4 linked regions of the Homo sapiens genome follow. The protein of the gene in region 3 interacts with the protein of the main gene of each other region in a pairwise test. Each region holds a gene or a part of one and is shown on either strand. Other genes may lie near its edges.

Region 1 (7,949 bases), on a different chromosome or scaffold from region 3:
AGGCAACTCACTTGGTATCTCTGAGACTCAGTTTCCTCCTCTGTAAAATGTGAGAAATATCTGATTCCATAGTGTCATCCTGAGGATTAAATGAGATGTGGAAAGTACCTGACCAAGTTCCTGGTCAATAAGTGTCAGTTCTCTGCTCCTCTTTCCCCTACTTCAGGGAGAATTATTGCTAGGCACACCTGCCTGCAGATCATTTACATATATCCAAGGCATTTCAGAATCAGATCAGAAATGAGACCACCCTCCAAATGCCAATCCTGCCAACCGTCCTGTCTCTACTGTCTCCCCTCCTTACCCTTGGTGCCTCATGCAGGGAACATCATCGGCTCTGGAATCTTTGTCTCGCCAAAGGGAGTGCTGGAGAATGCTGGTTCTGTGGGCCTTGCTCTCATCGTCTGGATTGTGACGGGCTTCATCACAGTTGTGGGAGCCCTCTGCTATGCTGAACTCGGGGTCACCATCCCCAAATCTGGAGGTGACTACTCCTATGTCAAGGACATCTTCGGAGGACTGGCTGGGTAAGAGGATCTGTGGAGACCTGAATGGTCTAGGGGAAAAGGAGGAAGACATTCAGAAGGAGGTCAGATTGGAAAAAGCCAAGGCCAGGGGTTTCCAGTCTCCAGTGTGCCACGGGGTGCTAGTGAATGGAATGTCTCTTCTGCTTTCCTGCCATGGTTGCTAGTGTAGCCTTGTATCCCCTTGAGGCTCCCGATAATGATGGAGGACCAGGTTTGTAGTTTTGACCTCTATGTTGATCTTAGTGGGAAGGAGTCTATGAGTGAGAGCAAACAGAACTGTGTAACAACACTGACCATAGATTCCCAGAGAAAGCACATCACAAAAACAACGCCCTTCTATCTTGACAAATGAGAGTGGCCAGCTAAGGTAGAGTGCACCCTCTTCTCACACTACCAAGGATAATGGCCTCCCTCTAGAGCTGGGCCCTAATCTTAAATTTCCTCAATTTCTGCATCCCTGCCATTGGTAAACCCTCACCAATGGGCCAAAAGGTGTGGAAGGCGCTTCCCCTGCAAACCCCCACTTGATACCTCTCCTGATTATTGCTTACGTAACCACACCCTTAGTATGTCCTGTCTATCAACATTCTGGGGTTGCAAATTTTGTTTTTCCACCATTGGATGCTGGTGGCCACAGTGATGGAGAAGAGATCATGAAAGGAGAGGAGAGAAAGGAAGAACGCCAAGACTTGTGTTAGTGCTTGTGGAAATTTAACTCTTCATTAAACCATTTTATTGTCACTGCAGAGGGCTGGGTGTCTCATTTGTGGGTGGGGGCAGAGGCTGGGCTCTTCAGCATCCTTGAAAATAAAAAAGAGATGCATGACTTGCCCGGGCTCTCCCCTGATGGCTCTGCGTCCCTGCCATGCCTTTCGGCGGATGTCCCTTTCCTCCTTCAGGTTCCTGAGGCTGTGGATTGCTGTGCTGGTGATCTACCCCACCAACCAGGCTGTCATCGCCCTCACCTTCTCCAACTACGTGCTGCAGCCGCTCTTCCCCACCTGCTTCCCCCCAGAGTCTGGCCTTCGGCTCCTGGCTGCCATCTGCTTATGTAAGTGTCATCTGGGTCTTGGTAGCAAGACAGCCTCTTTTATTATATTTATTATTATTATTTTTAGAAACAGAGTCTTCACTCTGTCACTCAGGCTGGAGCGCAGCCGCATGATCATAGCTCACTGCAGCCTTGAACTCCTGGGCTCAAGTGATCCTCCTGCCTCGGCCTCCCAAAGTGTTGTGGTTACAGGTGTGAGCCACTGCACCCAGTCTGAGGGACAGCCTCTTTTATCCTCCCTGGAGGTCTACATGTCTCTGACTCTCCTAACTTCTCTCCATTTTTTTTTTTTTGAGGCAGGGTCTCACTCTGTCACCCAGGCTGGAGTGCAGTGGCGTGATCTCCACTCACTGCAACCTCCATCTCCCAGATTCAAGTGATTCTCCCACCTCAGACTCCCGAGTTGCTGGGATTGCAGGCGTGAGCCACCATGCCCGGCTAATTTTTGTATTTTTTGTAGAGATGGGGTTTCACCCTGTTGGCCAGGCTGGTTTTGAACTCCTGACCTCAAGTGATCCGCCCGCCTTGGCCTCCCAAAGTGCTGGGATTACAGGCCTGACCCACCTCACCCTGCCTCCTTTTCTTTTCCCCATTACTTTTCTTTCAATTTCCTACAAGTGTGTTTTTTATGAATGGATTCTGCATACAATTGTCTGGTGTTAAAAAAAAAAAAAGAAAGAAACTTAAGTAGCTCCTTGGAGGCACTATGATTTTCACTGGCAGGGTTCTTGACATTACGCAAAGCACTTTCACCTATATTATCTGATTTGGGCCTAATGACAAGTCCATGAGGTAAGCTGGGCCAGTGTTAACATTTTCCCAGAACAGATAAGGAAACAGAGAGCCAGGCAAATGACTTGCCCAGGGAGGCAGGCCACGTGGAGTGCAAGGGCTCCTGATTTCTTGTCTGTCCAGTGCACTGCACTGTGCTGGCTACTCCCAGCTGCTCCTAGGAAGATTACTCTGGCTTCTTGGCAGTAGGTCCACATCTACTTCTACCTCAACTTGTCAAGTCACACTCTTTTAACTCTCTTGGAGAAGGGTTTGTCCATGATCCCTGCCCTTGATGAGTTTTCTAACTAGGAGAAAAGCCATATAGACAGATACTGTGGTTAGGATTCAATTGCAGTAAAAATTCAGAGAAGGGAGCTAGGCATGGTGGTGTACACCTGTAGTTCCAGCTACCTGGGAGGCTGAGGTAGGAGGGTCGATTGACCCTGGGAGTTCTGGGCCACAGTGAGCTATGATTACACCTATGAATAGCCACTGCACTCCAGCCTGGGCAACATAGTGAGATCCTGTCTCTAAAAAAAAAAAAGAAATTAAAAACAACAATAACAATAAAATTCAGAGAAGGGGAAAAGATCTCTGTGGGCTGGAATAGGTTAGAGAGGCTTCCTAGAGAAGTTCTGCAGAGCCGTATTTCTAGGAAGTCTCAAAGCTTTATCTCTGATATTAGTCATCTCAATGGATTGGGGTATTTTACATCTTTAATCAAAAACTAATTTCTAAAGTAAATACTTAGATATGTTTCAGGGGCTCCACCTCTAGGGTTCACTGGGTCCCTGCCTTCCCATAGCTTCTAACACACATACACTTAGCTGAGGGCAGTGATCATCCTGGCCATATGCTTTCCCAGGTCCTGACACTTTTCCTTCTGTCCTGTTACGGGATGGGGGAGGAAGAGATCACTCACCCACCTCAGTAGCCTCTTACAGGGCAGGCAGCTGGGACCCAAGAGGCGGTCTCCTTGGCAAGTGAGCCCTCTTTGGCAGTGCTGGTCAACCCTGGGACAGACCTCCACCACCCAGGCCATTTGCAATATGGGGCCAAGACATTTGTTTGGGGGTGTATTCCTTGTGTTTGATCAGGCCTGCTCACAGATCTGGAGGCAGAGGAATGCAGGCTCCAAAACCAGGCTGCCTGCGCCTGCATCTCCAGTCCACCATTTCTAACTGCAGTGGTGAGTGCTGGGCAAAATCACTCGTCCACCCTACTGTGAGATGGGGAGTGTAATCCTAGCTGCCTCAAGAGGTCGTGGTCACAAGGACTGCAAGAGAGAAGGAAGGGGACACCCTCAGCACAGTGTTAGACACCCAGCACCCCAGTCATATCAGTCACTGGGGGTGGGCAAGATGCTGGGGCCACTTTATCCTTGCATCCTAGCTGGATCCAGAGTTGAGATGGGGAGCGGGGAAGAGCGAGGGCGTGGGAATGCAGGAAGAGTGCTGTTTCTGCCATCAGATCAGCTAATGGGAGGGTGGGAGGCAAGGCCACAGAAGTGCTAGCTACTGCTGTTTTGGTGTTTCTTTGCACACAGACAGCTTCCTTTTTCCTGCTGATGCTGCTAAAGTGTCTCAGACAAGAGGCCACCCTTACCCTTCTACTAGAAATCAAGAACCCCCGAGGCTGTTCAGTTTGCACCCTAGGAGAGGAGCCAGGCCACAGGTTGAAGAAGTTCCCAGGCAGCCAGACCCCATGGCTTTCTTTGCATTCCCCAAATCTGCCAAGGGTTTGACCTCTTGCACAAAGACCCTCCAAAGTAGTGTAGCCTTTTTGGCGTCCCCTCGGACCAGAAAGGTCCAAACTCTCCTAGGAGATAAGAACGCCACCTGCCTGTAGCCCTGCTCCAGAATGACATGTTGCACAGTCCTCTCCACAGCCTTCCCCTCACCTAGACACTGCAAGGACCAAGCCAAGGAGAAATTTAGAAACTGGCTGATGACAAAAATGACAAGACCCCCCTCCTCTATTCCTGTAGTCAAAGATTCAATAAAGCTTATCTAAGTTTGGCCTCTGCCTTCTCAGCAGAACTGCAAGGAAATTATCTCCAACTTAACAGTAGCCAATCTTGTCCTCTAAAGACAGGAATTTTCAATGTCCTTGAAATATGGGTTCAAATATTTGTCTACCTTCATAAGCAGAAAAATCTTAAATCCTTCTTATTCCCAAGCGTAGTCTTCCTTATTTCCTTTAGGGGAAATGGAAACCAGCTCCACACCTGTCCCGCTGCAGTGTCCCTTTCCTCCTAGCTGTGAAGGCCATGTGGAGCTGCCATCCCTCTGCCCGGCAGGGTGCACACGTACATGCATTAGCTATAACAAACTTCCTCTCTCCCTTTCCTTATACCTGACACTCCCAGCTGCTTTGAGTCTGTGTACAGAGGTTCTGTTTTCCGGTTTGTTGAATACTTTTTTTTTTTAATCCACTTCTATAGGCCCCTCAAATCCTCTCTTCTTTTTTTGAATTTTATGGCAGGCCATACCAGATAAGCATCCAATCCTCTCATACGGTATTCAGTAAAACAAGAACCAAGCTGTCAGGAAGGCTTGGTAGATGCTTTTTTTTTTTTTTTTTTTAGATGGAGTCTCACTCTGTCACCCAGGCTGGAGTGTAGTGGCGCCATCTTGGCTCACTGCAACCTCCGCCTCCCGGGTTCAAGCGATTCTCCTGCCTCAGCCTTCCAGGTTGCTGGGATTACAGGCATAAGCCACCATGCCCAGCTAATTTTGTATTTTTAGTAGAGATGGGGTTTCCCCAAGTTGGTCAGACTGGTCTCAAACTCCTGACCTCAAGTGATCCACCCGCCTCAGCCTCCCAAAGTGAGGCCACTGCGCCCGACTGGTAGACGCTATCTTTCATTAAATGCTGGTACTTTTTATTCCAGCACCCCTCCCACCCACCCACCTACCCCCACCATCATCCAGCCCTCCTCATCCTCTTAGCAGGGGCCAGGCAAGCCAGCTACATAAAATAAGCCCAGCCTGTGTCTCTTTTGAGAGACGCAGTAGAGAGTTCCGGTGTGGCGTAAACATATGCACATGGGGAACTCTGCTTCCTGCTGTCCTGTGGCGACATGCTGATGACTGTGAAGCGAGAGGTTTTGAGGAAAGGCCACCCTCTGTGGAGAGGTCATTGGTGTATAATGGAGGGCACTGGAGGACAGGGCACAGGGCCCAGCAGGGAGAGCCTGTGTGGTAAAGCCCGTGGCGAGGGTTTGCTGGGGGAGGGAGGAGATGAGGCCAAGTCTGGTTCCATGGTGGGGCTGTTTTGGAGGAGAACTGATGAGAAATGAAGTTGGGAGGAGCCAGGTGGTGGGGGTGGAGAGGTGGAAAGAACCTGCTGAAACTGGCTTGCCTGCCGGATCCTGAGCGGGTCGGGGAGAGGAGAGGGAGAGGGAAGGAACTGCAGACTTGGATCACACTTATGCAACTGCAGCTGCCACTTCGAGTTATTCTATTATTTAGGTCAAAGCTGATTACTCACTGCTGAGTCAGCAGAATATCCCTAGCCACCCAGCAGTAAAAAAAGAAAAGAAAAAAAAGAGAGAGAGAGAGAGAAAGTATTTTACATTTTAATTAAATAAAAAGCCTTTCTCTCTTCTCCAGAACAAGTATATTAGTGGGAGTGGAGGGAGTTAGGAGGGGACTGGGAAGTGTTAGAACTTGGTTTTGATACCTTTTGTGATCTGCTTGTGTGTTTTTCTCCTTTTGTATTATTTCATGAGTAAATGACTATATTCCCCATATAAAAGATCCAAGTAAGATATAGAGCCAGCAGCGATAGCCGCCCTTATCATCAGCCGCTGGCCAGTAGCTGCAGTCCTAGTGGATAGTTCTAAATAAAGTGCATCTATTACTGTACAACTCTGGCTGCATGGACCTATGTACTGACAGGTTATTCCTACAGCGTGCCCTTTTTTTTTTTTTTTTTTAAGACGGAGTCTCCCTCCGTCACCCAGGCTGGAGTGCAGTGGCGCGATCTCGGCTCACTGCAAGCTCTGCCTCCCGGGTTCACGCCATTCTCCTGCCTCAGCCTCCCGAGTAGCTGGGACTATAGGCGCCCGCCACCACGTCCGGCTAATTTTTTGTGTTTTTAGTACAGACAGCGTTTCACCTTGTTAGCCAGAATGGTCTCGATCTCCTGACCTCGTGATCCACCCGCCTTGGCCTCCCAAAGTGCTGGGATTACAGCTGTGAGCCACCCCCACCCGGCCTACAGCTTGCCGTTTTATCCTGTAGCCACATCTTTTGGCTGTTACCTGGGTCTCTAGTTGTAAACAAAGCATCCACAATGATCCAGAGGAAGCACTGGGTCCAGGGGACACCCTTTCCCAGGCTTCCATCTGTGCATCTGTGCAACTCTGCATTTTCCTTTGGGATCCGTTTGCTCCCCATTCTCTTGGAGACTGGATCACCTTTCATTCAGTCCCCTCCTGGCCTCCTTCCTCTCATTTGGGGTTGGAGTCATGTCCAGCACCTGAAGTGGAATCAATTCTTTTTATTCAAGTTCCCCACTTCTCCCTGAATGTCTTGACCTAAAGAAGTTCCTTCTCCTTCCTCACCCTCAGGAGAAAGAAATATCCTGTATGCATCTCTCAAGGAAAAAATGCTTCTAATCTTGTTTTCTATCTTTCTACTGAGATTCCTAAGAGGCTAGCTTTTTCCAGGGCTTCAGATAGCTCTTCTTCCTTGAGCTATTTGGAAAGGAAAGGACTTCATGTGTTGCTTCAAACTCCTGAGTTGCTTTGCAATTCCTCTGCAGAAAGCCTCCAACTGCCTGGTGCAGAATGCTGTCACAGAGAAACTCGTGAGTTGTTTTGCAAGTCTCTTGCAAATTTAATCAATCCCTTGACCTCAGAGCATTCAATAGTCTTTCCTATCATCTAAATCCCTTAACCTCAGTTTATTTTCCCTTGAGCCTTCACATTCTCTACCCCCAAACTGCTCCTCCCCAGACACTAAACATTTTCCTTCAGATACCTGGGCAGCACTGCCTTCTTGCCCTTCCCTAGTCCCCAGAGAGTTCTTCGGGTATCCGATCAGCCTCGTTTATATGAATTCAGACAAATACAGACTGGCCTACATTTGATTCCCATATATCCAAGACTCCATTTTTCTCTGTACGCCTTCTAACTAGCCAGCATTTAAAATCTAAATGTATTGAAAATCTCTTGATTTTTACTCAATGGACAGTTTGACTAACATCTCATTTTTCATTTTTATGATGCATTAAGATGAAAATTATTCTGTAAGCAGATTTTTTTTGGAAAAGAGAAAGAAACTAAAAAAATCCATCAGCTAATTACCATACTGAACTCCTACACTAAGGGGAGATAAGGTATGATTTATAGAGTCTTAGAAAAGATTAGTCTAGTGAAGAGAATCGTATGCAAAAACACATCATTACAATACAATGTGATGGGGAAAAAATGTGGGCAACACAGAGAACGGGGCTTCAAAGTTGGGAAGACAGTGCTTGGAAAGGCTCCCAGCTTGAGCTAAATGTTGAAAGGTAAGTAGATTTTATCCAAGGAACAGGGAATCACTGAAAGATTTTGAGCAGAGGAGTCACATGATTAGGTTCACATT
Region 2 (7,949 bases), on a different chromosome or scaffold from region 3:
CCGAGGCACAGAAAGGATGACCAACATGTCCAAGGACACAGAGGTGATAATAAGTGTGAAGTCAAGAATCAAACCCAGGTGGCCTGGCTCCACAGTCAGTGAAGGAGTAAATAATGGTCATCTCCAAGGTGGTATTCAAAATATATGACAGCCGACCAGGCACGGTGGCTCACACCTGGAATCCCAGCACTTTGGGAGGCCGAGGTGGGTGGATCACCTGAGGTCAGGAGTTTGAGACCAGCCTGGCCAACATGGCAAAACTCTGTCTCTACTAAAAATACCAAAATTAGCTGGGCATGGTGGTGGTGCCTATAGTCCCAGCTACTGGGGAGGCTGAGGTGGGAGAATCGCTTGAATCTGGGAGGTGGAGGTTACAGTAAGCGAGATCACACCACTGCACTCCAGCTGGGTGACAGAGGGAGACCCCGTTGAGAGAGAGAGAGAGAGAGAGAGAGAGAGAGAGAATATATATATATATATATATATATATATATATATATATATACACACACACATATATACACACACACATACATATATATATATACACACACATATACAACCACTTTGCCACTGGCACCAACCACCCAGAACTGACACTGGCTATGGTGCAGGAGCAGAATCTGGAAGACTCCCAGCTCTGCCAGGAGCGAATCTCTTCGTTTCCAAATCATGGATAAGTCTGGGGGTTCAGCCACTTAGGAGACTCGGCACAGCAAGTATCCACGAGAGAACTGTTTGACATAATTGACTCACTGATGTGGCTGTGCTGGGTGTCCCGGGTGAATGTCACCCTTGGATCACTCTTTGTCATCCCTGTCATTCCTATTTCAATGGGACTGCAGGAGTTAAAGGAGCTAACCTTTGTTATTTCACATAATGATGCTTTGTGTTATTCCAATTTCTTTATGAATTTAATGCATATAATAGGATGGCACAGAAGATTAGATGAAAACACCTGCAAAATGTGTGGTAGGGCGCCTATCACATAGTAGGCTTTAAATATAGCATATCTCTTTCCTCTGCTTCCTCCAGCCCATAATCAAGGGTGCTTGCAGCTGGCCCAGTGCCCTTTCTCTCACAGAAGCTGGGGCTTCACTAAGGCTGTCAGTTATCTGCTGAGGATCTGTCAGTGTTTGGAAGAGAAGGAGCCAGTGTTTGCTAGCTTGGCATCCCCCGGACTGTCAGGAGCCAGGCTGGGAACAGCAGAGGCCAGCAGAAGAAAGGCCAGAGTCAGCAGTCTAACATACAAGGAAATCTTTACCGCCCTCGGGCCTGTAGAACCATTCCACCACCGTGGTGGCCTCCACCTCCTCTCTCTTCATGCAGGAGATGCAGCGCAGCTTCATGGGGTTGCCCTGCACGGCCTCCGTCTCCGAGGGCACTTCCACACACACAGGGAAGCAGACACTGACTGCAGAGAGGACAGATGGACAGGGAAGGAACAGCAGGTGGTGGGGGAGGGGCACAGGAGAGAAACATTGGAGAAGAAGGAGGGAGGGAAGAGAGACAGAGAAGGAAGAGTCATGAGGCCAACCTGAAAAAAGCCACGTGCACATGTCTACACCTTCACCTGCGCTCCCTGAATGTACAGGCTCAGAACGTGTACACATTGGAGGAGACCTGGATGATCTAGACATTGACTGAAATCCTTCCCCTGGAAGCAGTGGAGATGCAGCACCGTACATTATACTTGAGCCCTGCTCTCTAAGTCTTATAGCCCAAATGGGAGACAGGGCATCTACCTACCCAGCAACCATCCATCCCCCTTCATTCCACCACCACTCATTAAAATCCACTCTCTGCCAGGTCTGATGCTAGACTAGAGATGCAAAGATGAATAAAACACTAACCATGCCCTAAATGCATTTATAATCCAATAGGGAACACATATTCCTAACTAGGATTAAACCAGACCACAGCAAGTAACACACTCATGATATATTCTGTTCTTAGAAGACAGGCAGTTAGTTACTCCCAGTTGGCCTGGGGAGAAAGGAAGAGAAGGATGGTGAAACATGAGGCTAGAAAGGTAGGCAGGGCCCATGCTGTGAAGACCTCTGTGTGTCCCTTCCAGTGTGAGGTATCCAATGTTTTAAAGTCGTGGAGAGATGTAATTGTATCTGTGTTGTGTGAAAACTGTAGGTAATTCTGACACATGGTGGAGGTTGGAGCAGCAGTGAAGAAAATGGCGAGCGGACCACTAAGCTGGAACAATGGTCTATGCAGAGGAGTATAGCAAGGCAAGTTAAAATCTGGAGCGGGGTCAGATTGTGGGACACCTTGCATGCCACACAGAGGTCTAAGACTTAGTGTTTCTGCCCTCTAGAAACTTGAAGTCTGTTTTTTAAAAGGAGGCAAGTATATCAGCTTGATAATTCAGAATAACTTGAGCGGGACAAGGCTGCCAGCAAAACATGCGCAAATGTGAGCTGCATTAACAGATGTACAGTACGCAGGAGGAAGGAGGCGTAGTTTCTCGGCACTGTTTTTGGAACAAATCTGGACTATTATGATCAGTTCAGGATGTCACATTTTAAAAAAGGAAGTTGTTCAAAGAGTGCATGCCCAGAGGTGAGGGAGATGGTGAAGGATCTGGAGATAAAGTCTGGTGAGGAAAAAATGGGAGAATTCGAGTTGCTTAGCTTGGACACAGAACATATCTGTCTTCAAATATTTGAAGGCTGGCAGATGGAAGAGAAATTTGATTCTGCCCAACCCTAAAAGTTATAAGAAAAAAATAAGTTTAATGCAATAAAGAAAGAATTTTATGATTTTGGAGCTGTTCACAAATGCAAATAACTAAATGCTAAGAGAGTGTACACAGCATTGTTTGGGATATTTGAAAGTAAGACGAGGCCAGGTGCTGTGGCTCACACCTGCAATCCCAGCACTTTGGGAGGCTAAGTTGAGAGGATTGCTTGATGTTAGGGGTCTGAGACAAGCCTGGGCAACATAGTGAGACCCCTGAGTCTACAAAAATAAAATAAAATAAAAATTAGCCAAACATGGTAACACACAACTGTAGTCCCAACCACTCAGGAGGTAAGAGGATTGCTTGAGCCCAGGAGTTTGAGGCTGCAATGAGCTATGATGGCACCACTGCACTCCAGACTGGTTGACAGAGTAAGACCCTATCTCTTGAAAAAATAAAAACAACATGATGGTCACCGCAGATTCTTATATTAGGACTTTGAAGATCCCTTCTGATGCTACTTTTTCATGAATTAATAATAAAAACAGAACCCCCAGAAAAAAAAAGAAATAATACACACTACATTTAAAAACTAGTCCACTGTTAATGGTCAGCCTGTTCATCTCCTGGCAGAGCGTTCTTTCCTAAAAGCAGAGGAAGGTTTTATTTAGAGCTTAATAAGACACTGCCATAAATTAATTTTGAGTCCAAAAACTGTGTTTGATTGACTTAGAAGGCAATGTATTTATTTTAAAACATGGAGTTTAAAAACTAGTGGCACTAGAATTAACTTAAAGTTGTAAACATCAAGGTAAAATAAATGTAATTGGGTTTTCAACTCTCCAGCAAGCTGGGTGAGTCTTATCTGACAGTCTTCAAGAGGACCTATTGCTTCTGCAGATGGTGAGCCACGTTAATGGAGAGAGGACTCACATCTAGGGAGAACTGATCAGAAACATCTTCAGCATATGATGAGTCTGAAGTATTGATTATAGATCTGATTAAACAAAAAGGAAATGTGGTTTGCGCAAAAGTTTGTGAGTGGGCAGAGGGGTAGAGCGTATGCAGCAAGAACTCCGTGTAGTATGGAACCTCAAGGCACATTCATATTTAATGAGAGCTGGCAAAGATAAATTCATTCATTTCATGTTGACAAACTCAGAAGTGGACTAAGAAGTCTCAAGGAATGCACAGTTACAATTATAGAGGCAGGGTGAAGATAGAATCTGGCAACTGAAGAGTTGGGTTTGATGTACTATGTAATCTCTCTGGACTCAGTTTATTCATCGACATCATGCTGAAAGTTACATCTGTCTAGTAGGTTTATCATGAGAATTTTATGGATTAATTTACATGAATGTGCTTTGTACAAATGTCATTATTCATGTTATTCTATCTTTCGTTTATTTCCCAAATATACTGAGTGCCTTCTGGGTGCCAGGCATTATTCTAAGCACGAAGAATACACCAGAGAACAAAAGAAAAGAATCCCTGTTTTATGGAGCTTACATTCCAATGGAGGGAGAGGGAAAACAGCAACATTAAATAGTAAAAAGTGCTGTGAGAAAAAATAAAACAGGAGAGAGTGTGTGCACAGGGTCATTGGAGGATGGCCTTTCTGAGAAGGTATCATTGAGCAGGCGCTGAAGAAAAGAAATGAGGATACAAGCTATACACATATCTGTGTGAAGGCATGTCAAACACAGGAAATTGCAACTCAAGGGCTCAAGGGGCCCAAAGGAGTGTGTTTGTCATGCTCAACAGACAGCAAACAGTCCAATGTGGAAATTACAGCAAACAACGTGAGAATAGAAGGGGATGAAGTAGTAGGAGGGATGGGGAGGGCCAGATCACAGCAGGTCTTATTGGCCATGTTAGAACCTTGGCATTTGCTTAGAGTTTATGGCATTTGCATGGAGCAGCAGAAGGTTCTGAGAGGAAGAATGATGGGATCTAATTTGTACAAGATCATATGATCTGATGCTGTGTTGGGAATAAACTGATGAAGTGAAAGGGACAAGGGTGGAATCAAAACAGTTAAGAGGTCTGGTACAGGGATCGGATTGGAAGACGATTTTGTTTTGGTGAAGATGACAGTAGAGCTGGTGGAGTTTGAAAGAAATGAAATGCAAGAAAATGATTTGCTGGATTAACATCTTTGAAAAGGTGAGAGGTGATGTGCTCTAGTGAACAAGTAGATGGGATGGCAGAGATAGAAGCATAGTTAGTTCATTTATAGTTAATGGAGGGAAAGCAGTCAGGATGGCAAATGGGGTATGGCAGAAAGTGGGGTAGCCCCTCTCTTTTCTTGGTTGCCCCTAAGGCAACAATAATCCAAGGTATCATCATAGAGCAAGTCCCACTCCTTCCCTTCTGGTCAAAATCTAGTTTCAGGGCATGAGAACTCTGCTCGTATGATCCTGAAGAGTACATTGAAAAATGGCCACAAAGTTCCCCCACCTCTGTTTGCTTGCCTTTTGCAGTATGACTTGCTGCTCCTTGCTTCAAGAGGTAATGTCTGTTTCTCCATCCTTTGAGTCTTCAGCACACCACTGTCTTTCTTTCTTTCTCCTTTCTTTTTCTTTTCTTTCTTTTTTCTTTCTTTCTTTTTTTTCTTTCTTTCTCTTTCTTTCTTTCTTTTTTTCCTCTCTCTCTCTCTGTCTCTGTCTCTCTCTCTTTCTTTTTTTTTTAGATGGAGTTTCACTCTTGTCACCCAGGCTGGAGTACAATGGCATGATCTCAGCTTACTGCAACCTCCGCCTCCTGGGTTCAAGCGATTCTCCTGCCTCAGCCCCCTGAGTAGCTGGGATTACAGGCACCTGCCATCACGCCCAGCTAATTTTTGTATTTTTAGTAAAGACAGGGTTTCACTATGTTGGCCAGGCTAGTCTCAAACTTCTGACCTCAGGTGATCTACCCACCTTGACCTCCCAAAGTGCCGGGATTACAGACATGAGCCACAGCACCCAGTCCACCACTGCCCTTCTTTCTATGAAACCCTCTAGGTATTCAAAGAAGGCTGTAAATATGGCAGGAGCTCAAACTACATTGCTGACTAAAAGTAACAAACTCTTGGAATAATGTTGACCAAATCATTTGACCTTTGTTCTTCTCTTCAATTCCCATAATAATAATGAAGAAATTTATGAGAAGGAAAAACATGATTATTAATAATGATCATATTTCACTAGGGAGTAGTAGCATCCATCTATCATGAGGCAGATAATAAAGAATTATGAACCAGCTTCTCTGATACCCTCAAATCTTTCTCTTCTTTGGACAATGCCCAATTTTTCCTCCTGAGATTGCTCTAGAATGCTTTCCTTTGCACTGAGATAATGAAAAATTTGATTAGAATATAAACAATTTCCAAAAAGGGGTAATAAATGAGGTTATTTTTAGATGCTGACACCCTGACGTGACTTGTTCTGTCAATTTAGCTGGTCACTTAGGGCCTTGAATAGGATGCACGAAAGATCACCAGGGGAAGAGAGGAAAACACACAGGGCAACTAGAAGGGCAGGCCTGGAGAAGAAGGGCAGAGAAGGTACTAGGTGCTAGTGAGTGAGGCCCTAGGACAGGTGATGGTGTTGGGGAGAGATGGGACGGTAGCTCAGAAGAGAAATGGGAGGACAGGTGCCCTCCTGGCGATTGTGCATAGTAGCACATGTGTCCATGAGAGGTGCTAGAAGGAGCACTGGAAGACTGAAATCAGAAAACAAGGGTTCTCTAGCAAGTCCTTTCCCTTCCCCGAGCTCATTTTCTCATCTCTAAACTGGAAATAGCACTCTTTCCCCTGACTACCTCAGGGATAGACATGAGGACCAAAACAAGCAATGTATTGAAAATTACATTGTAAACTGTGATGCACAGGCAAATATAGGGTTTTATTTATTTATTTATTTTAAAGGCTGGGCATGGTGACTCATGCCTATAATCCTAGCATTATGGGAGGCTGAAGCAGGAGGATTACTTGAGCCCAGGAGTTAGAGACCAGCCTGGGCAATATGGCGAGACATCGTCTGTATTAATTTTTTTAATACAATTATTATTATTTTATTGTATTAATTATTTATTGTATTAATTATTTATTGTATTGTATTATTTTTTAAATCTCTTTAAAAAATAAAAATTATTACATGCTTTAACAAAGGAAATAAGGAAACTTTTTTTCATGCATGCAGAAAGTAAATGGAAAGACTCTTTCCCTTCATATTGTACATCATATTAAAAAATCAACTTTGGAAGGGGGAACACATCTAACCCAGCATTATTGTTCAATATTGGAATTGCATGCAAATCAAATGAAATTGTATCTGTGAAGGGCGGCTGTTTTTCTTTCTTTTTTTTTTGATGGAGTCTCGCCCTGTTGCCCACGCTGGAGTGCAGTGGCACAATCTTGGCTCACTGCAACCTCCACCTCCCAGGTTCAAGCAATCCTCCTGCCTCAGTCCCCCTAGTAGCTGGGATTATAGGCACGCACCACTATGCCCGACTAATTTTTGTATTTTTAGCAGAGATGGGGTTTCGCCGTGTTGGCCAGGCTGGTCTTGAACTCCTGACCTCAGGTGATCCACCCGCCTCGGCCTCCCAAATTGTTGGGATTACAGGCGTGAGCCACTGCGCCTGGCGAAGGGAAGCTGTTTTTCTTACAGTTAACAACCAAGTGTCCTGAACCACTTCTCTTTCCCTTCCACAGCTTTTCAGTTTGGTGAGACAACACTCAGTTTGCAAAGAAACTGAGAATGGGCAAAGATGGGCATACTGTGTACACTTCTTCCAAAGTTTTTTGGGGTCGGGGAGGGGATGGGCACTCTGTCAATTCTAGCAATATTCTTCAAAGATTTCTCTACCATTCATCTGTGGAGCTGAAAAGGATGTTAGATATCACCCGTGCCAACTTCCAAACATTACACAGAAGGAACCAGATAGCACTTTAAGGTTGTTATATAGTAAGCTAGTGGCAAAGCTGAGACTCCAATGCAGGTTGCACAAGTTCTAGTTAAAAGATTCTTGGATGATAGCATGTTCTCTCCCTCCACTGGAATTCAGGCAGGGATCTCAAAATCTTAGATTAGAGTTCAGGAAGAAAGTCTCTGCAGAGTCTCACTCCAACCCTTATCCACAACTTCAGCTTTACCGACGCTCTTTTTATCTGGCCAGGCTAACATCTTCTAAGCCTCGTGTCCTCAGCCTTAGCCTCCCCTGAGAAAATTTCAGCCTTAATCTTCAAGGCAGGTGAGATCATTGGCAA
Region 3 (8,250 bases):
TACTACATGTTAGGTACTGTGTCTTTCTTTTTTTAAACATACATTGTCTCATTTTACCCTTATGATTCTGTGAGGTAGATTTTCATAAAAATCAAAACAAAACAAAAACAAACAAACAAAAAAAACAAAGGCTTAGATTGATAAGCAACATGTCCGAATTGATACAGCTGGTAGGTGTTAGAGTTAGGATTCAAGCTCAGGGGATCAATCCTCTTTCTGGTATGCTATATCTATTTGTATTTCAATGTGAATTTTCATATCAGTTTGACAATTTCCACACACACACATACAGACACACAAACCCAGCTGGGATTTTGACTGGGATCAAACACTGAATTTATAGATTAATTTGGTGTGATGATTAATTTTATGTCAACTTGACTGGGCCAAGGGATGCCCAGGTAACTGGTAAAATATTATTTCTGGGTATGTTGGCGAGGGTATTTCTGGAGGAGATCAGCATCTGAACTGGTAGACTGAGTAAAGAAGTTCACATTCACCAATGTGAGTGGGCATCATCTAATACACAGAAGGCTGAAATAGAACAAAAAGGCAGAAGAAGGGTAAAAATACTACCTCTGCCTGAGCTGAGGCATCTGTCTCCTCCAGCTCTCGGACATTGGTGGTCCTGGTTCTCAGGCCTTCAGACTTGGACTGGGACTTACACTTGTGACCCCCTGGTTCTCAGGCTATCAGAATTGGACTAAATTATACCACCAGCTTTCCTGGGCCTTCAGCTTGCAGACAGCAGATAATGAAACTTCTCAGCCTCCATAACCATACCAGCCAATTCCTCATAATTAATTTCATTCTGTATATATTTCTATATCCTATTGGTTGTGTTTCTCTGGAGAACCCTGACAAATGCATTTAGGGAGAATTGACATCTTATACTACTGAGTTTTTCAATCTTGAATTGGTATTTCTCTCCACTTATTTAAGTCTTCTTTAATTGTTCTAATAAGACTTTGTGGTTTCCATTGTGAAGAAACAATTTATTCACCACCACTGTGATGGGGCAGAGGCCTTCCAGGGGTCAGAATACTAAGGCAGGAGCTTGATGGATGAGAAGTGCAATGAGGAAATTGCAAAAATATGGGCAGAAGAAATGATTAAAGGGTCCACTAGGTAAAGCAACAATTTCAAGAATTTTAAAGCAGAATAGCTGGGTGTATAAAGTTTCATCAATGGCAGGCAGCAAACAGCTGTGTGCCCTGCCAGCAACAGGGAAGCCAGGAACTCTGGAGCGTATTTATATGATGCAGCTTACCATGGACTGATGATTCAGCAGCAATTTTTCATGAGGAGGAAACTGTGATTGTTAACCGAGGTATGACAGTTGTCCTCTTTAAAAGCGAAGAACAGGCTGGGCTGAACTCAGGCCAAGTTTGCCTTCTGGGCTTTCCTTCCTTCTATCTTCCATTTCTGTAGCCCCTCCAGCCTGCTAGCATTTCCTCTTCAGCACCATCATATTTCTTCGGAAACTCCCCTTTGCCACCTGCATCTAGACCTGCTCCACAGCCCCATAAACGATCCCCAAATTATCTCCCTCCCTAGATCCTTCATCCATTCATATTTAGGATATTCAGGTGTTCAGAGAAGGAAGTGGTTAGGGGATGCAGTTAATACACATCCATGTATTAAATGACAGATAGCTAGGTGGGCATTTCTCAAATGAGGGTCCAAAGACATAATCGTAGAGATTTGAGAGGTCCGTGGGCATTTAGATAATAATAGCTAGTATTTATTGCATGCTTGTCATGTATCAGGTGCTGTTTGAAATGCTTTACATGTATTATTTGGTTTCACTATAACATTACAAAGCAGATGCCCTTATCTATATTTAACAGGTGAGCAAACTGAACATGTTCTTATTCCCATTAAACAGATGGGCAACCACGGAAAGGTTGATCAGCTCAAGGTTACACAGCTAAGAAATGACAGTATAAGGACTCAAATCCAGGCAGTCTGAGTCTAGAGCTAGTGCTCTCAACCCCAATGCTGTCATCTGGGGCTCAATTGAGCCTGGATGGTCCAAGATGCTGTCATGCATGTTTGGCAGTTAGCTGGGGCTGTTGGCTACGGCCTCCTCCTCCATTTGGTCTTTCCAGCAGGATACATCAGACTTCTTTATGCAGCAGCTGGATTCCAAAAGGTAAATGTCTTCGAGGCAATTTTTCCATGTGGAAAATTACCTTGATGCAATGGCAGCCTCCATGTATACACCTACAGGTCACGAAATAGATAGGCTTATAGGCCAAATTAAGAAGCTTAAATCACATTATCTGGTGGTTCTAAAACGTATCCTCAAAGGTTTTGGCATTACTCCTATTAAGATGTGGGGTTTATATCCCTTTCCCTTGAATAGGGGCTGGCCCTAGGGGTTGGCTTATAGCCAGTAGAATACAGTGGAAGTGATACTGTGTGACTTCCAAGGATAGGTCAGAAAACGCCACAAGCCTGCTTCTTTTTAGACATTCACTCTGGGGAAAGCCAGCTGTCTGGTGAGAAGATCACCATGCTGGAGTGGCTGTGTGAAAGTGCTCTGGTTCTCAGCCCCATTTGAGCTACCAGTCAGCCATGTCAGTGAGCCATCTTAGCTATTCAGCCCAGCTGAACTTTCAAATGACAGCAGTTGTGTTGAAATCTGATTGATACTACATAAACGACTCCAATAAAATAACTGTCCAAGTAAGTTCTTCCCCAATTTCTGAGCCTCAAAATTAAGAGCAAAATAAATTGGCTAATTAAACTACTAAGTTTTGGCATAATGTGTCTACCCAAAGAGCAGCAATAATAACCAGAAGAGTTTACCAACCAACATAAAACAGAGTGAGAAGCAAGGGGAAAGAGATAGGGTAGATTAATAAGCTTAGGATAGGCTGAAGGACCATAGCACCTAAATTCTGTTTTATGCAATGTTCTCATGTCTTATCCCTCTCCACCATCCAGTCTTCTCAGCACATAGTGTGGCTACAAGGACCAGACTGGAGAGTAAGTAAGGTGACTCAACAGACTGAAGGGGCCTGGGCTCAACATATGTCTGTTCTGTTACAGAGCTGAGGGGCAAGTGTGTCTGGTTATAATGGTAGCTGGCATTAGTTGGCTTTGTAGCTGGGGGTTTATCTGCTTTTCTTGGGAAGAGATTACATGAGGCCATAATAGCGTTACAATGGGTGTTACCAGTAGGTATGCAATTTAGGGATGACATGGCTGTAAATCTGAAGATAGTATGATCTGTACCTTATTAATACTTAAAAGTCCACTTTGTCTTTCTGCCTCTATCTAAAGCAGCATTTTCATTTGTTCCATCCTTTTTATCTATGTTCAACCCATATCCATTCATTCTATGTGTAACCTTTCTCATAAGTGACTTGCTTCTACATTTTAGTTTCTCTTGTTTTATAATAGAATTAAATATTCTATAGTAATATAGCAAAAGCATTACAGCAAACCCCAATGAGCAAACATGTATCATATCACGTTTATGATGTCCTCCTATTTATTGACCAAAACAAGTCAAATAGCCAAGCCCACAGTCAATGTAGAGGTGGACCACACAACGGAGCGGATAATAGAAGGTGTAGTTCATTGGGGATCACTACTATAACAATCTAATACTAACACATAGTTAGGAGACGGTTGATCCAGGGATCGAACTTTCCACAGTCTGTCTCTGGAGGCTACACACTAAACTACTATTCTGGAGGTGGTTGGGAATGGGTTCTTACTGAAGAACTTTTTTCAAACCTCACTTCCCAGGTCTGGGGCCTGTGATCCACCCCAGTGAATCAGAATATCTTGGGGGTAGGAAATTGTGGGGGGGATGGGGTGGTACTCCCATGAGCCTGAGACTGAAATAGCTCTGCAGAGGATTCCAGTGCACACTAGGGAATGAAGGGGGTTTCAAAGACAAGGAAGATATACTTTATGCACTCAAAAAGCTTTCATTTCCACAGAGAGCATTCTTAATTGTTGTTATTACATCACAGAGGCATCACCTTGGAATTTAAAAAAGAAGCGATTCCTTTCAATGTTTAAGAGACATCAGTGTTTCTCAAGCTTTCGTGTGTGTTATTACTGGAGGGCTTGTTAAAACCCACATGACTGGGTCCAATGTCTACGTTCTGATTCAGGAGGTGTGAAGTGGGGTCCACTATTTCTCACGTCTAAAAAGCTCTGGGACACACTTTGAGAACCAGAGTTAGAGAAGTAGGAGGCTTTAGTGGTAACAATCCTCCATTATTCAGTTTAATATTCTACTTACATGTAGCACATTTACTACCTACAAGTTTCCGGGCTGAGTGCAGCACTGTTTATGATAAGGATGGGATTTAGATCTTGATTACGCTCCAGCAGATTTATTAAGTGGATTTATTCTCTAAGGGTGCCTAAGCGTCATTAGACAGGTTCAGATAAAGCAGAGATCTCCTCCCTTAGAAGAGATTAGGGACAGCTTAATGAAGTAGGAGACCTTTCACCTGGGCCTTGAAAGATGCCTAGGACCTGGATCAGGGGAAATCGTGGACAATCAAATTATTCTTCCCGCTTTAGCACAGAGACAAAAAAATCACAAGCAACCACTAGGAAAGGTCTATGACATTCTTGCCTCTGCCTCTAGCATTAACAATTTGCATGCCAGCTGCTGGAATCTGAACGGGGAGGACTGTTCTCGTGTCAAGGGCTCAGTCTCAGACCCTCCTTGGGCAGGGGTGGAACTGGCTTCGCTTTCTCTTTGGGGCGCCCAGAGCGACTGCATTAGAGCCGGCCTGCTCGGCCGAAGCGGCGGTGGGCGCTGACTTGGCGAAGGGCGCAGCTGGGGCGCTTCGTTCCGGAGCAGAGCGCCGTGATCCCGTCGGGGCTGGGGTGGCAGCGCAGCTCTCCGCCTGTCCAGAGCGGGGCCGCACGCCGGGGCACCTTTCAGAACAAGCTCCAGATGTGGCCCCAGGTTGGGGGCCGGGTGGCAGCTGTACTACCCTGGCGGGCGAGGGGTCCAGAGCTCGTTTTCCCTATTCCGATCTGTAGGTTTAACGCCAGCACAGGGTGGCGCACCCTACCTCCTTCCACCTTCACGCACCAGCGCGGGAGGGGACGCGTGTGCACGCTCCTCCCCTAGGAGGGAGGGCGGCCCGAGAGCCTGCAGACTGCGCCTGCGCAGCCTCGCTCACACACCTCCCCGCCCCCCCGCACCTCCTTCCCCTTTCGCCCCGCCCCGTTCCCACTTCTGCTGCCGCTAGGGGTAGCGGCGGCGGCGGCGGCTGCGGCTCGGGAGCGCGGCTGCTTTGAGGGCTCGGGAACCTTACAGAGTGGGGACGTGGGGAGGCTAGAGGGTGAGAAAGCTGGCGGGAGAGTAGGGCGGCGCTGGAGGAGGGCGGTGCGTGGCTGACTCATCCTCTGGAAGATCAGACTGACAGAGACACACACTAGCCCGCCCCGCCCGCCCGCGCCGCTCCTCCTCAGCCGGGAGGCGCCCGCCCGCACCGACCGCCCGCCCTCTCCGGGCGCTGTCCGGGCCCGGCCGTCTCAGAGAAAGTTTTTCCCATCGGAGGGGCGGGAGCCGCCGCGGGCCTTTTGGAAAGGAAGTGGGGACGGAACAGGAGGCGAGAGCCGCGCGGGCCCGCGGAGTGCATGGTGCCCGGCGCCTCGGCTGCCTGGCAGGAGGACCTCGGGGCGGGGTCGAGCTGAGCCCAGCTCCTTCTCGCCTCAGCCGCGCCAGAAACCGCCTTGCCGGACGGCCGCGGGGGTCCCAGCTCCTCAGCTCGCCATGTCCCGGCTGCTGCCGCTGCTGAGGAGCCGGACCGCGCGCAGCCTGAGGCCGGGCCCGGCCGCCGCCGCCGCGCCCCGCCCGCCGTCCTGGTGCTGCTGCGGGCGGGGGCTGCTGGCGCTCGCGCCCCCCGGCGGCTTGCCGGGCGGCCCCAGGCGGCTGGGCACGCACCCCAAGAAGGAGCCCATGGAGGCGCTGAACACGGCGCAGGGCGCGCGCGACTTCATCTACAGCCTGCACTCCACGGAGAGGAGCTGCCTGCTCAAAGAGCTGCACCGCTTCGAGTCTATTGCCATTGCCCAAGGTAAGGGGGGCAGGTGGGGGGCGAGCCCGGGGGCCCCGACGCCCTCCTCTTCTCGCCAGCCCACCGGGAGCCCGCTGCGGCCCTGGATCTTGGACCCCCGCCGCCGCCCCCCTTCCGCCCCCCTCGCCTGTCTGGCCCCACGCCTGGGACGGCTGGGGGCGGGGAGACTTTCCGCCGCCCGAGTTTCCCCCAGGCAGGTAGGACGGGCGCGGGTCGTGCCAGGCAGCCGAGGCCAGCGCTAGCTACTTCCTCCCCAGCCTCCGAATCCGGAGCTTCGGCCTAAAATGCCAGTTAACGCTGTTGGGATTGAGTTTTGATTTGCCCCGTGCCTCCCCTCCCCAGCCCTCCTGTCCCTTAGCCCTTGCTGCTTTCTTGCGAGCGTGCACCCGTGCAGGTGGCATGCTGTGCCTGCTCCGAGAAAGTGCTGCAAACCCGCCTGGCAGGAAGAAACTTTTTGAACGGTTATCAAATGAAGACGTATGGGTGGGTAGCCAAAAGAAGGGGTGTAGCTTCGAAAGTCAGGGATGCTCATAGCTGCTTGTTTCCACACATGTCTGATTGCGTTAATTTCAGCAGCCAAAGGAAACATTTTCTCCAGAAATGGAAAGACAGATTCAAGTTAAACTCCAGTTTTGGTTTTTCCCAGAGGTTGAAAGAATGAAATAAATAAGGAGGTATATTTTTTGGAAATCTGTGGCTCTGTAGTAAAAGTCAGACTGATGCTCAAAAGTAATTGGGAATGATGAAAGCAAAACGATTTTTAAACTAGCATGTTAAAATAGGATATTTCTAAAAGGAGTCCAGAATGGGGTAGGGCAGAATTTGAGTCTAGGTGAAAAAGCTAAAAGTTCAGAAAATAAAAAGGATGAAAGGAGCAAACGACTAAAATGGATGTCTTAAAATATTTCTGCCACTTAAATACAGTTATGTAAACAAAACACATTGCTTCAGTTTGTATTACATTCTGATGTGTTTGAAAGTTTTAAAAAAGTTTACTCTCCTCTCTAAACTTGGTAGGTACATAAACATCTCATAGATTCCAAAGTGTAGAGCACATTGATTCGGATCATGCCATTTGATTTGCCAGACTTGAAAGTATATCTTTAGCTGATGTGCAGGAATGGAGGAAAGAATTATCTACCTCATGTAAGCAGGACGTTATCTGTACTACTTCAGAAACTTGTTTTAGTTGTGGCTTTTAATCAGATGTTTTCCCCCTCAGTTCAGGAAATTGTGGACCAATTTATAGTGGATGATTGATTCCAGACATTGTTTACCCACAGTGCTTTTACAGGAAAATGTAACGTCCGATCAATTCCGTTATTCAATGTGTAATCATGATGTTATATGCAATCATAATGAAACACTAGCACATTTGTAATCTATGTGTGCACTCAGTATGCAGTTTAAAAATAGTCAATTCTGAAAATATGCTCCTTGGAAAAATAATATAGTCAGTCATGTACTAGAACATTAACTTTTGAATCTTTCTGCACTGACAAGACTATTTGAACACACATTTTACCTTTTCCAAGTAATTTCTTGGAAATTCTGCATTGTCAACAAGTTACAAGATTGGAGGGCCCTATGAATATAGTTTTGTGGCAGTTCTTGAAAAACATGTCCTGCAAGGTGACTGAATAATTTTTTTCTCATACATTATTATTTTTTACATGCCAGCAGTATTGCAGTAGCAATGCTACATTTCCTAATAAAGATAATATTTTTAAATTTAACGTGGTTTTAAATATTCTGAAAAGGACCTAAGCACTTTAGTCAATGGAGATCATTAGCATCAATTAAACTTAGTTATGTTACTAATATGAGAGAGAAATTAGTAATTTAAATTGTCTTCTTTGCTCAGGAGAAACAGTCAAGGATATTTGAAACAATGGTTAGTCAGATGCTTATCTCTCCTCTTTATATGCTAAAGAACATCAAAGTTTAAATCAGCTATTTTTGCTGATGTCGATGACAAAATGATTGTCCTATGAATCAAATGACACAGATGCTGCTGCTTTGTTAGTGTATGTAGTCTTGGTGTTCACTTACTGTTTTCAGTATCAATACATATAGTTATGGAGATAACTAGAATCATCACTTAGGAAATTACCTTATTCATTAATCATTAAGGTAAAAGGGATTTTATTATGTTGGGAATGCGTACAGCTCATTCCATTGC
Region 4 (7,815 bases), on a different chromosome or scaffold from region 3:
TCAATGACGATCCACTGAGTTTTGCTTAAAACTGATTTTTTGTTGGTATTCAATTATGAAGAAATGTAATTACTTAGATATTGTTTCACACCGTACTTGATTTTCACCTATTTGAGTTTCTACTGAAAATTGATTTTATTACTTTTGTACCTATAAGCTTCTAAAAATCTAATATTTAGTTTTTGCTTGTTTTTTTAGTTTTGTTGGTAAGACTCAAAATCAAAATTTAGAAAGAAAAGAGGAAAAGTAGCTAATATTTATTGCACAACTACTATGTACCTGGCACTCTGAATACACACACACACACAAATATATATTTCCTCCATAAATATAGTCTTGTGTCAGCCAGGCGCCGTGGCTCACGCCTGTAATCCCAGCACTTTGGGAGGCCGAGACAAGAGGATCACCTGACGGCAGGAGTTTGAGAACAGCCTGGCCAACATGGCGAAACCCCATCTCTACTAAAAATACAAAAATTAGCCAGGCACGGTGGTGGGTACGGGTACCTGTATTCCCAGCTACTCAGGAGGCTGAGGCAGGAGAATCACTTGAACCCAGGAGGTGGAGGTTGCAGCGAGCCGAGATCGCACCATTGCACTCCAGCCTGGGCGACAAGAGTGAAACTCCACCCCAAACTATTATCTATATATGTGTGTGTGTGTTTGAGTGTGTGTACATATATATACATATATATACAGTCTTGTGAGAAATAGGTAAATTTAACCCCATTTTGCCAATGATGAGATAAGGCTTAGATAGGTTAAATAATTTGAACAAAGTTAAAGGTGAATTAAAGATAAGAGTTGGCAAAAGAAAGTAAAAGTAGCTTTATCTTTCATAGGTTTCCTGTTCATTGGTGTTTTTATGACAACATTGACTAATAAGAGATTAAGGTAATAAATGTTCTCTTTCCCAGAACACAAGTGTTTGAGAACACTGAAGATTTATGCTGCTATTCAAAACAGAAGATCTAGTTGTGTTGCTAAATGCCATGGGGGAAATGTGCCTAAACTGCAGACTGATGTAAAACAGATGAGAATTCAAATCTGAGTTCTGCCATACTGGTTTGTAGCATTTGGCAAGCTACTTAACCAATCTGAATCACAATTTTCTCAGCTGTAAAATTCAGAACAATAAAAGGCCATTTACAAGGTTATTATGAGCCCCAAGAAGAAAATAAGCATGAAAGCATCTATCCCATGCCTATGGGGCACTTAATAAATATTAGTTTCCTTTTTCTTTCCAAAAACTTTTAGGTCCTGGAATTTATCTCTGATTTATGAACTTCATGCAAAGAATATCTATCATTTCCCAGTTAAATAATCAACTTTACTGAATTTGAATTAGCAATGTATATTAATGGCTTTTACCATTAAGGTAAAACACAAAAGCAGTGTATATTAGTGGCTTTGTATATGAGTGGCTTTTACCATTAAGGTAAAACACAAAATTCATCAAGTTATTTTTTTTTCAAATCTCTCATAAGTGGGTAAACAAAAACACTGCCTTGGGAAAGTTAGTTCCTATTCTGCATGGTATGAGCCCATTAAAATTTATAGGTGAAATATGTTCCATACGCTAAACATTCAGCACAAGCGGAAAACTGGAAACACATACCTGCAGCTGACTCTCACTGATGTCAACTCCCAGCTCAGTCATTACCTCTGATTCATTCATTCATGGTAAAGTGAATCTCAACTAAATGACATACACATGAAACAAATACTTAAATTTATAAGCAGTTCTTCCCCAGGGCAGGAAGTGAAACGGCATGTTCACAAGTAAGCAAAGAGTCTCGAGAGACCATTGTTTTTAGCTCTTTTTCCAGTGCTATCCCTCTACTCTTTCCTCAAATGCTCTTTTTTTCCCCCATCAAAACATGTAATCCAGAAAAGCATGTGACTAATTCATCCTCATTAAAGTGTAAATAAGGGACAAGGCTTAATGTCTCCCAGAGGTATTTATCTACACCATAATTGGGAATAAGGTCACTGGCTTAAAGGGAAGGAATGCGAATCTAGTGATGATGTTAACGATCTGCAAAGCAACAAGAAAGAACAATTTTAGTCCTGAGAGCCTTCGCATTGCTCCTGAAGTCAAATCGACAAGCCATCTCAGCACTTAAAGCTGGATATGGCCACCAGACACCCCTAAAGCTCCTTTATCCAGTCCTCTAAAGTGCTTCTTTCCTAAAGTAGGTGCTCAGGCATCACTGACTGGAGCTACGGGAGTCTCATTCTGACTATGCCACTGACACAACCACGACGGCTGCTACCAAACCACAATCGTTAGCTTCTTGGGATTCTTGGTTTAAGTCCTAGGAGTTGCTAAAGAGGCCAGTGTAGGTAAGAATGAGCTCAAGCTTAGGAAGGGCCACTGGGTGAGGTGCAGACCTGCCTCCACTGCTCAGAACGCATCCCACTGCTCAGAACAGTAGCCAATAAAGAAAATGATCATCAGCAAAGTAACTTTTGAGCACTGAAAGGAAAGCCCACCCATGGCTGAACAAGTCTCTGTGATATTTGTAACATTTCCCACTAGAATCTCTACCAAAAGATTAGAAGAGTGTTTAACACAAGAGTTTCAGTTATTCCCCCTAGGCAGGATAAGAGACAGACTGCTGAGCTTCCCTGGGGTTACTTACCTGAGATCCATATCTCCATCAACCCAGAAGGTGAAAATGTTAGAGATGGTGCCCCCCGGGCAGCAGCCCATGATGAGAACAGCAATAGCTTGGACTGGCTTCAGAGAAAAGCTAATGGCCAGGAGATAAGCTGTAAAAGGCATGAGCCCAAACTGGCAGAGCAGTCCCACAGCAATGCCCCAGGGTCTCCTGATGTGCGACCACAGCTTCCGGATCTCCACGGAACATCCCAAAGAGAACATGAGCAGCCCCATCATCACAGTGGACACCACTGTGAAAACGAGCTCCAGGTTTCCATGCACCTCCAGTCCCACTGGCAGCTCCTCCTCTGAACTGTTGGCAGGGCAGGCTGAGCTGCTGGAACAATTGGCTCTCATCTCCTCATCTCCTTAAGGCAGCATTACAAATGAACATCGGCAACAATGGCTGGGCAGGTCTATCCTGCCACATTTTGTAATAGTGCAACGAAGTCACACATGGAGAATCATTCCAATAACTGTTGGCCAGCAAGGTGATTCATCCTAATCTGATCAATTTTTTCACAAGTGGCATTATAAAAGTAATTATCACAGGCATGAAACATATAATAAACTGTGGTAAGTAAGGCTTTCCACTTCTGTTCTTACTCACCACTGAATATGTATGTGAGATGAGACAAACAAACTTGTTGTCAAGTGGAGTGACCGGGCTATGTCGTCAGCATCACATTGTGTCCCTGGAAAGTAGGGTGGATGCCAAGAAATAATTTCTCCAAATTCAGTTGGGATTTCAAAGAGCCAGGATGCACAGACAGAAAAGCTAACTCCGGAAAAAACAACAAAGCCAAAGCCACACCTTGTAGCATTAGCAAAGCGTGTCTGCTGGAAATAGAGCAAAAAGAAAAAAAACGCCGGTGGAGGAAATGTCAGGAGGGACTAAGAATAATTTCAAGGAGCTTCAGAATTTGTCTCAGTTTTTCTTCTAGTTCTATTAGAATTTGTGTCTAAAGTCAATAATTAAACACCTGTGAGAATAATATGGTATTAGGCACCTAATTATGTCTCATGAAACATGTGAAAACTAATTCCTTCACCCAAAATAATTCAAGGGAGCTCTCACTTGCTTTTGGAGATAAGAGTCTACTTTGAGATACATACCCCTGGCCTCCTAGGGACATCTGGGAATCCTGCAAGGGGATGTGGTAAAGAGCTTGGTCTGAAATGGAGATGGGGTCTGAGGACAGCCTCTGACCACAGTGCCCAGGGCCCCTCTGTGCATTCTAAGCAGGCACTGCTGGCAAAACCCAAGGACTGTATGGTTCTGTGAAACTAAACCTCTGAAAAAGCAGGTGCCACACCCCTTCTCACAGCAGAAAGTTTATTTGTGGGGCACAGGCTAGTAACAAGGCACACTTCATAAACGCCTCTACCTGTCTCAAGAGGGATACTAGCTATGCATTGTTTATTCATGGATGAGCAAATTCTTCTCCATGACAGAATGCTCAGGACATGCTGACTGTATAAAAATACAAGTTAGATTCAAATGTGAAGTAAATTCTAACTATTTGAAGAAAGAATAAACTGCCTTTGGCAAACAAACCCTGAAGGCAGCTCTGGCCATCCAGCCTCCCTGGAGGTTGCGTATAAGGGGTCAGTCAGCACAGGGCGTATTTACGCAGAGCCCTGCAGAGAATGGACACTGAGGAACGGGAAAGGTCTCTGGAAGGCAAGGTGTTCCCAGCTTGAATGATGCAGAGGTGTGGTCAGGCTGAGGAGGAAGGGAGGAGGGAGACAGCTAACATTTTCTGAGCACTTCTCAGGGGTGACAGAGGTGGTGATATGGTTTGGCTGTGTTTCCCCCGCACCCAAATCTCATCTTGAATTATAGCTCTTATAATTCCCATGTGTCATGGGAAGAACCTGGTGGAAGGTCATTGAATCATGGGGGCGGGTTTCTCCCGTGCTGTTCTCATGATAGTGAATAAGTCTCTCAAGTTCTGATGGTTTGATAAAGGGGAGTTCCCCTACACACGCTCTTGCCTTTTCTGCCACCATGTAAAACGTGTCTTGCTTCCCCTTCCCCCTCTGCCATGATTGTGAGGCCTCCCCAGCCATGTGGAACTGTGAGTCAATTAAACCTTTTTCCTTTATAAATTACCCAGTCTTGGGTATGTCTTTATTAGCAGCGTAAAAACAGACCAATACAGGTGGCTAGGTGCTTTACACATATGTGGCTATGTCTGGTGAAGCAGAACTTTATTTACTTATTTAGCAAGAGAAGGGGTCAGGGGTGTCTGCCTAGATAATGTCCAAAAGCCCCTTAGTCAACCTTCTTTTTTTTTTTTTTTTTTTTTTTGAGATGGAGTCTCCTACTGTCGCCCAGGCTGGAGTGCAGTGGAGTGGCGCGATCTCGGCTGACTGCAAGCTCTGCCTCCCGGGTTCATGCCATTCTCCTGCCTCAGCCTTCTGAGTAGCTGGGACTACAGGCGACCACCACCATGCCTGGCTAATTTTTTGTATTTTTAGTAGAGACGGGGTTTCAGTGTTAGCCAGGATGGTCTCGATCTCCTGACCTCGTGATCTGCCCGCCTCAGCCTCCCAAAGTGTCAACCTTCTTTGTTCCCAGGAAGAGTCACTTGAATCGCCCTTTTTAGTTATACAAATTTAAGTTTTGTATAAGCACCTCCATTCCTGATAAGGATGGTATAAGCACCCCCATTTCTGATGAGAATGGTGTGACGGGAACTTTTGTGATTGCTGGGTACTCAGTGCTGATAGAGGGGAGGGGGCTAAATATGCATAGCAGCCTTAAGGAGCCTCCTGGGAGAGGGAGAAAGGTGACCTTGGCCACTTCTCTTTTAAAATGTAGTGTTGGCCGGGCGCAGTGTCTCATGCCTGTAATCCCAGCACTTTGGGAGGCTGAGGCAGGTGGATCACGAGGTCAGGAGATCGAGACCATCCTGGCTAACACGGTGAAACCCATTCTCTACTAAAAATACAAAAAAATTAGCCAGGTGTGGTGGCGGGCACCTGTAATTCCAGCTACTCAGGAGGCTGAGGTGGCAGAATGGCATGAACCAGGGAGGTGGAGCTTGCAGTGAGCGGAGATTATGCCACCAAACTTCAGCCTGGCAGCCTGCACGACAGAGCGAGACTCCGTCTCAAAAAAAAAAAAAAAAAAAAAAAGTAGTGTTATCAGAATTTCTCAAAAGAATTAGGATGTTTCCGACTGAGGTCAGCTGGTCCTAACACACACCAGGAAAGACAGGGGTTTCTTGCCTGATGACAGGTTCCTCTGTGTCCAGTCACCCTGGACAGATGCCACAGGACACAATGACTAAGTATATGGATATGACCTGAAGAGAAGTCATCTTGAGAGCCCAGGCTTGGACACCGCCATGTTGTGTGCCAGGACTGGACCGGAAGGGACAGGGTGGCAATGGATAAAGGCCCACTGGACTGGGTGGGGCCAATGCATCAAAAGGTCCCAACAGAAACAACCGCAGTGATCCCAGGGCCTACCAGCGGGCTGGTCAGGCTTTTCCAAGTTTCTCCCCAGTGGAGATGGGAAGGAGATTTTCCTGGGAAGAGTAAGCACTTAGGGTTCTCGGTCAATTTGTAAAGAAGATTTCAAATACAGGATCGCAGACTTCCTGCCCTTATTGGTAAGTAGAGATTCAAATGATTAATTAGAAAATTTTAAAAAGCATGACCAACTTTACATCCCAAGCCAGTGAGGCAGATTATGAGATCCCACTTAATCCTCACATTTATTCTAGGAAGTAACAAAGGCCCATTGGGGCCATATTATTTGTCGAAGATTATTAAGCAGGTAAATTATAACATTGGGATTTAAATCTCAATCTAATTCTCCACCTGTCCTCGTTTCCTTCCCTGGAGCACACTGAAGTGGAAGCAATGAAAAGCAGTCAAGAGCAAGACCATGCGGAAAAGACTGGCAACCACTTAGGCATAGCTCAGGGGTAAAACACCACTATTTGGCTTAAGGATGGAGAAATAAACTAATCCCTAATCTCTAACATTATCTTCTATTCTCACACACTCAAAAGGCATCTACATATGTTCAATATGTATGCACCTTCATTTTGAGATCCAGTTCTACAAATCACAGGAAGTATTTCATGTACTTCCAGCCTCTGTAAGTAGAATTTGGGGTGAAAGATACTCCTCAGGAAAACCAACAGAAAAGGCTGGGAATGTAAAGTCTGAGGGGAAAGTGCCAAAAGAAAAGGTAACCAGACTTGGCTGTGGAACTGTTTCCCACGCTCTGAAAGGCAGCACAGGGTAAAACTTCTAGAAGCTTGAAAGACAGAAAAATCCTATAGGTTCAAAAAGAGTTTACGTAAATTCATGAGAGATAAATCCAAAACAGATATAAAGGAAATTGGCAGTAATGGAAAAAGTAGACTGTTTACTCAGACATGACACAAGGTAAAAAGCCAAATTCAGTATTTTTTTAACTCAACAATAAAAACACTATCACTTCCCAGAAAAAAAGACAAAATACTTGAAAAAAAGTGATCAACATCTTCCATGGTTGTAGTGTCCCTTCCAAAACTCATGTTGACATTTAATTGTCATTTTAACAATGTTGAGAAGTGGGCCCTTTAAGAGGTAATTAGGTCATGAGGGCTCTGGATAGATGAATGCTGTTATAGTGGGGAAGAATGGGTTCGTTATAGTGGGAATGCCATGTGATGCCTTCTGACATGTTACGATGCAGCAAGAAGGCCCTGGCCAGATGTGACCCTTTGGGAAGCCCATGATTTTGGGCTTCCCAGCCTCCAGAACAATGAACGAAATAAATATCTTTTCTTTATAAATTACTTTGTCCGTGGTACTCTGTTATAGCAGCAGAAAACAGCCAGGCGTGGTGGCTCACACCTGTAATCCCAGCACTTTAGGAGGCTGAGGTGGGAGGATCACCTGAGGTCAGGAGTTCAAGATCAGCCTGACCAACATGATGAAACCCTGTCTCCACTAAAAATACAAAAATTAGCTGGGCGTGGTGGTGGGTACCTGTATTCCCAGCTACTTGGGAGGCTGAGGCAGGAGAATCACATGAACCTGGGAGTGAGAGGTTGCAGTGAGCCAAGATCATGCCATTCCACTCCAGCCTGAGTGACAGAGCAAGACTCCATCTCAAAAAAAAAAAAAAAAGAAAAGAAAAGA

Evidence for each region.
Region 1: the proteins of TMEM65 (region 3) and SLC7A8 interact in binary tests that used the Homo sapiens proteins (3 or more experiments, as listed by UniProt).
Region 2: the proteins of TMEM65 (region 3) and SCN3B interact in binary tests that used the Homo sapiens proteins (3 or more experiments, as listed by UniProt).
Region 4: the proteins of TMEM65 (region 3) and SLC10A6 interact in binary tests that used the Homo sapiens proteins (3 or more experiments, as listed by UniProt).

What each region holds. Positions count from the first base shown.
Region 1 is NC_000014.9:23,158,914-23,166,862, reverse strand, and holds part of SLC7A8 (large neutral amino acids transporter small subunit 2), read left to right. Parts: intron 1-322; coding exon 323-527; intron 528-1,426; coding exon 1,427-1,578; intron 1,579-7,949. UniProt on the Homo sapiens protein: Associates with SLC3A2 to form a functional heterodimeric complex that translocates small and large neutral amino acids with broad specificity and a stoichiometry of 1:1.
Region 2 is NC_000011.10:123,644,337-123,652,285, forward strand, and holds part of SCN3B (sodium channel regulatory subunit beta-3 precursor), read right to left. Parts: intron 1,415-7,949; coding exon 1,251-1,414; intron 1-1,250. UniProt on the Homo sapiens protein: Regulatory subunit of multiple voltage-gated sodium (Nav) channels directly mediating the depolarization of excitable membranes.
Region 3 is NC_000008.11:124,369,672-124,377,921, reverse strand, and holds the start of TMEM65 (transmembrane protein 65), read left to right. Parts: upstream 1-5,220; 5' UTR 5,221-5,764; coding exon 5,765-6,068; intron 6,069-8,250. UniProt on the Homo sapiens protein: Essential for maintaining proper cardiac intercalated disk (ICD) structure and function as well as cardiac conduction velocity in the heart.
Region 4 is NC_000004.12:86,846,095-86,853,909, forward strand, and holds the start of SLC10A6 (sodium-dependent organic anion transporter), read right to left. Parts: upstream 3,291-7,815; 5' UTR 3,022-3,290; coding exon 2,645-3,021; intron 1-2,644. UniProt on the Homo sapiens protein: Transports sulfoconjugated steroid hormones from the extracellular compartment into the cytosol in a sodium-dependent manner without hydrolysis.